Linked DNA regions of Homo sapiens: region 1 is linked to region 2. The links come from fine-mapping of genetic effects on gene expression. Tissue or cell type: lung. Region 2 holds a variant in brackets; the other region holds the start of a gene. All regions are shown on one strand. Distances are from middle to middle.

Evidence for each region. PIP is the estimated chance that this variant, and not a neighbour inherited with it, causes the effect.
Region 1: SLC4A3 starts here. The variant in region 2 is fine-mapped to the expression of SLC4A3 in lung (TOPMed, PIP above 0.99).

What each region holds. Positions count from the first base shown.
Region 1 is chr2:219,626,036-219,628,692 of GRCh38, forward strand. SLC4A3 (solute carrier family 4 member 3) reads left to right here and starts at 1,595. Exons shown (of 23, transcript NM_005070.4): 1 at 1,595-1,710; 2 at 1,865-2,008; 3 at 2,370-2,535. The coding sequence starts at 1,958. It overlaps LOC124908064 (a long non-coding RNA gene), which reads right to left and starts at 1,975. Exons shown (of 2, transcript XR_007088701.1): 1 at 1,905-1,975. RefSeq lists an enhancer at 2,098-2,657.
Region 2 is chr2:219,668,973-219,671,823 of GRCh38, forward strand. No RefSeq gene overlaps it. Among named protein-coding and RNA genes, the nearest start is that of SLC4A3, 43 kb to the left of the region's middle. The variant G/A (reference allele first, on the strand shown) is at 1,454.

The DNA of each region.
Region 1 (2,657 bases), 43 kb before region 2:
TGCCTCCTGGGTTCAAGCAATTCTCCTGCCTCAGCCTCCTGAGTAGCTGGGATTACAGGCGTGTGCCACCACGCCCAGCTAATTCTTAGTAGAGACAGGGTTTTACCATGTTGGCCAGGCTGGTCTCGAACTCCTGATCTCACGTGATCCACCCGCCTTGGCCTCCCAAAGTGCTGGGATTACAGGTGTGAGCCACCGCACCTGGCCAATTTCCCCTTTTCACTGGAACACCAGTCATAATGGATGAGTCCACCCTTATCTTAACATCTGCAAGAACGTTATTGCCAAATAAGGGCACACTCTGATGTACCAGGGGTTAGGACTTCAACGTATAAATTTTGGGGGACACTACTCAACTCCCAACAGCTGGGTCTCCCATTCTGAGTTTTGGGGCACAGCTGTGCTCTGCCTAGGCATAGCTGATTCCCACCCTAGGAATTCCCACCTTGGGACTCACCATGTGAGACTTAGGAGGACAGTTCATCTCTTTCAGTTAAAAATTTTGTTTGTGGCTTGGAGAGTCACTTCAATACATGGATAATGATGCCCAAACCTGTCGGCAGCCTGCTTTCCAGCTGTGACCATGGCAGGTAACGAGCCTCCCTGAGTCTCCACTGTCCTCTGCCGACCAAATGGGAATCATAACAGCTCCTCTTATTATTATGCCTGAGACGAGGCAGCCAGTCTGGAGAGGGCCAACCTAGCACAGGACTGTGAGCACACACAAGACAATGTGGGCGTCCAACAGATCCTAGCTCCCTTCCCCTTGGAAGGCTATGCACACAGAAAATCTTTCCTTGGGTTGAGCTGAGATCTAGATGAGGCCAGGGGTCAGACGCGGTGAAGTACCAAGGTCACAGGGCTGTTATGGCATCGCACTGTGTAGAAGTCCAGTTTCATTGATCTCGGGATAGGGGCCGATTGGGGTCCAGTGGCTCCTTCGAAAGACCTTTTGCCCTTGGAAAATGAGATGTGACCTCAGGGATAGGGGGAGAAGGGAGAGGAAATGTGGAAACGGAGCCACACAGTCTTAGAGTTGCATAGAACTTTGGAACACCCCTATTGCAGGCCCCTCTCGCTACAGCTGGGGAAGCTGAGGCGGGAGGAGGGGAGGTACTGTGTCAAGGTCAAACGTTGGGTGGTGCCAGGCGACAGAAGCCAGGCCTTTGAGAGGCAAGGCTGTGGTAGAAATGAAAGGGGAGGTGGTGGGTGCTTCCAGGGGTCTGTGAGCTCCGTTCCCAAGACTGGAGGGGCCTGTGTCTGCGGAGGGGGTGGCTTCCTGGGCTCTGGAGGGGAGGGGAGGCTAAAAGCAGGGTTGGGGAGCGAATCTGGGGGATTGTGGGAATATCGGGCCGCGCCCCAGCCCCCAGCGATGCGTGGGGCGCCTGGAGAAGGGGCGCACGGGCAGGTGGGGTGCTGCGGGGCCCGCGCGTGGGGGCCGCGCCGGCCGGGGCGGGGTGAGTCACGGCCCGCCCGCTCCCATTGTGCGGCCCGGCGGCGGCGGCGGCGGCGGCGGCGGCGGCGGAGGTGCGGAGCGGAGCGCGAGGAGGTGGAGCCGCGGGCTGCGGGCTCCGGCGCCTGCGTCCGCCCGGCCAGCCCGGCTCTGCGCTGCGAGAGGCCGGACGGCAGTCGCGGCTGCGCTCGGGAGAGAGCGCGGGGGACATGGGGCGCGGCGGCCCGCCTGGGCCTCGCAGGCTCCGGAGCCCCGAGGTACCGCGGGGCGGGGCACGCCGGGCAGGGCGGGGGACCCGGGCTGTCCCGGGCGTGGCTGGGCCTCGGAGGGGCGCTTGGGCCGGGAGCGTGCATCCGGCTCCCGGGTGGGGGGCGCCAGCGCAAGGAACCTGACCCCGCCCTCCTCCCCCAGGGCTCCCCGCTAGGCCCCCTCAGTGGCCCCTCCTTCTCACCTGGGTCTCGGGTCCCCTAGTGAGCGAGAGCGTCCCCAGCCGCCTACCTGGCCATGGCCAACGGAGTGATCCCGCCGCCCGGGGGCGCCTCCCCCCTACCCCAGGTGATCGGCGCGCGCGGGGGCGGGGGAGAGATGGGGGAGGAGAGGGGAGGGACCTTAGGGTGGGCAGAGGAGTCCTCTGGCCGACCCCGGGACCCCCCAGATCCAGGGATGAGCTGGGCTGGGGGTTACGGAGAAAGAGGGGGGTTTTTGATATTTTCCAGATCCGTAGCCCTCTCTCTTTACAAGCTCTGGGAGCCCAGAGAGGGTGGTTTCTGGGATGCTGACACAGGCCTGGGAGCAAGGGGAGGGGGCCCGATGGTGTGAGAGCCTGCTGAGCTCCCCCAACTAGGGCTTGGAGTTGGGGTGGGTGTGGGGCCTTCATGGGTCAGGGGTCCTTAGCAGAGGCCGTCTGGGCCTGCAGGTCCGGGTGCCCTTGGAGGAGCCCCCTCTAAGTCCAGACGTGGAGGAGGAGGACGATGACTTGGGCAAGACCTTGGCTGTGAGCAGGTTTGGGGACCTCATCAGCAAGCCCCCGGCCTGGGACCCCGAGAAGCCCAGCCGCAGCTACAGCGAGCGGGACTTTGAGTGTGGGTAGCCTGGGGACCCCTAGTGCGGCCGCCCTCGCCACCATCACCTTCATCGCCACCATCACCGCGCTCACCTCCGGCTTGGTCACCCAGTGCCATCCTGTGCCGGACACTGTGCTGGA
Region 2 (2,851 bases):
AATGGATCATATTGGTGGTTGAAATATAGGCCTTTAATGAGACCCCCAACTGGAGAATCTGTTTCTACAGTTCGGTATCTTGGACCTCCAATTTCAGCTCTCCAAGGGAAACCATCCTGGAGCGGTTTGTGCCAGCTCTGAACAAGTCCTCTCTGAGGACAGGTAGGCTGCGGTCTCCACCAGAATGTCCTTCTTTCCTCCAATGTCCCTATTTGCACCTTTGGTATTCCTGTTACATTGGTCCCTGGGTGAGAAACCTTTGGGGCCACAGTTCAATTTCCCTTCTCTTTCTTTTCTCCACCCAGACAGTTATCAAGTCCTCAAATATTTTCTGTGCGATTACTAATATTACTAAATATTTTCTGTTCTCCATTCACACTGCCCTCTTCTTCAACCAACCCTTCATTCAGTAAATATCAAGTGCCTGATATGTGTTGGAACTCGACTTGTGTCACCTCATGCCTGAATCCTTGATCTGGAGTCCCCATAGAGTTAAGCATAATCAGTGCTCAGGAAGTATTTACTGAATTGATATAAGGGTGTCTCAGTCTTCTCTGTCCTGCTGCAGATGTTTTTTGTTGGCTTAGTGGGGAGATCAAAGCTCTCATGAAACCCTAGTCTAGCGGGAATCCCTAGAACTTCCCTGAAATTGACATCCTCACGGGCCTCAGGCCTGGGGATCCACCCCTAGCCCTTCCCTGTCTTCCCAAAACATCCTAAACTGGGAGTATGAGAGGAGGGCTGGACAGCTGTGGACTTTAATTCATTGAGTGCCCAGATGGTCAAATAAATGAAGGTATGAGTCTGCAAGCAGCTGAGGAGTGGAGTTATCGGTTGCTCACCCAAGATGCTTTGTCTTACCTCTTTGATTTCCAAGCTAATCTATCCCCTGCTTTTTTTCTTTAATCAGTTGACTGTTCAGAGATTCTTTTTGCATTGGGAGGATCTAAGTACATTTATTACTAAAGGTAATTAACAAATCATATGGAAATATTTATGTATTCAAATTCAATCCCTGTGTGAAGAAATACCTTGATGTAAACAGGGTGCTTTATTCTAGATAGACATATTTGTTCCTTGTTCATTGACTACATAATCAGACAATAATGCTGTGGGTGCACATTTGAGTTAGGGGGAAGAAGCCTCTTAACTTTCCATGGTACAATTCTCAGTAGAATCCCCTCCTGGTAAATATTTTTATTCTGGAATAATATGCCATAGTGTTTATAGAAAGATTTCTTATTCAACAGTAAAATGGTTGTATTATTTTGATTGCATTCTTAGTCCTTGGTAATTGTCTCATTTTTCTTTCATAAAAGGAACTCAGACACCTAACACAATTGTACTTCAACACCAATTCAGCTCATTATGAAGAATTCTGCCGATAGAATTCTGTGAGTTGTGAATATCTTCTTTGCCCACATTTAGTTTTCTCAAATCGTCTGTAATTCAT[G/A]GGTAGCACAGATGTTTCCAGCTGTTGGAAAATGAAGCTTGAAGTTCATGCCGATAAGGAGAAAAATATCTAATTCAAATTCCAAGAATTGTTTGACCTAAATCAATTTCAACTTGAGAAAACGGGGTCAACTCTCTGTACCCCACAAGAATCACCCTGGTGATTAAAAAGTAAATCTTGAAGAATTAAATTATGTTGCTGTTCAGCTTTCATATGCACACTTAGGAAAAAAAACAGAGCATCAAAGGCTGTTGGAATAACTCAATTTAGTGATGATGGCAGAGCGTTGCTGAAAAAGAGCTTTCTAGGCAGCGAGCTTTGCTCGGGGGAACTGCTGCAAACTTCAGTTGGTATCTGAGAGAAAAGGAGAGGTCTTTCAGATGAATAATTTTATGACTTTCAACCACACACATACAGCTTGAATATCAAATTATTTTAAATGAGAACTTCAAAAAGATCCACCTGTCAAATGAATAAAAAGCCCCAAACAGTTGCCTAACAGAACAAAGAGATTTGGATTCAAATGCCAAACAGAGATGGGACGAGGCGAGACTTTATTGTGCCGGCATCCCCAAGACACATGTATGAGTTAGAGTTCACCCTCCGATGGATGTGGGGGTCTCTTCATCCACTTGGGTTGCTATGACAAGATTCTTTGGGATGCGTAATCTATAAACAACAGAAATTTATTTTTCACAGTTCCGGAGGTTGAGAGATCTGAGATCAACAGAAGGGGTGAACAGCTTCCTTATACCTCTTTTATAAGGCCACTAATCCCACCCATGAGAGCTTAATCACCCCCTAAACAGGCCCCATGTCTTAACACATCACATCGTTGATTAGCTTTCAACCTATGAATTTTGCAAGGACACATTCAGGCTATAGTGGGGGGCATTGAGCCTCAGGATTTCAAAGATCATCAAATCCATCCCTCCTTGTTTCGAGAGTGAAAACACAGAGGCCAGAACACAGGTGTCCTGCCAGCTGCAACCCCACCCCACTCAGTGAGTCTAGACACGTTCCACGTTAGCGTTCTCTTGAGTAGCATGGAGAAAAATTAGTGATTGATAAAGTGCTCTGGTCTGTGGGACTAATGAAAGACAATGATTTATGTGTCACTCTTCCTAGATGATATTTGCATTTTAAAGGAGGGCTTCAATACCTTCGGCTCAAAGGAATGAGCTAAGGCAAGGATTTTCAGGCAACTGAATCAGAATGAGAGATTCCTCTCCTATCTTCCCCTCATATGTTTCATATCAAACAAACGAGTATGCATATATCAAGGTATCTACTGAGTGTTGTGGAGAAAGAACTGCCATGGATTGCAAGATTCTAATTCTTGTCCTGCTCTCATTTAAAACAACTTGAATATGATTCACCCATGTAATCCAAAACCAC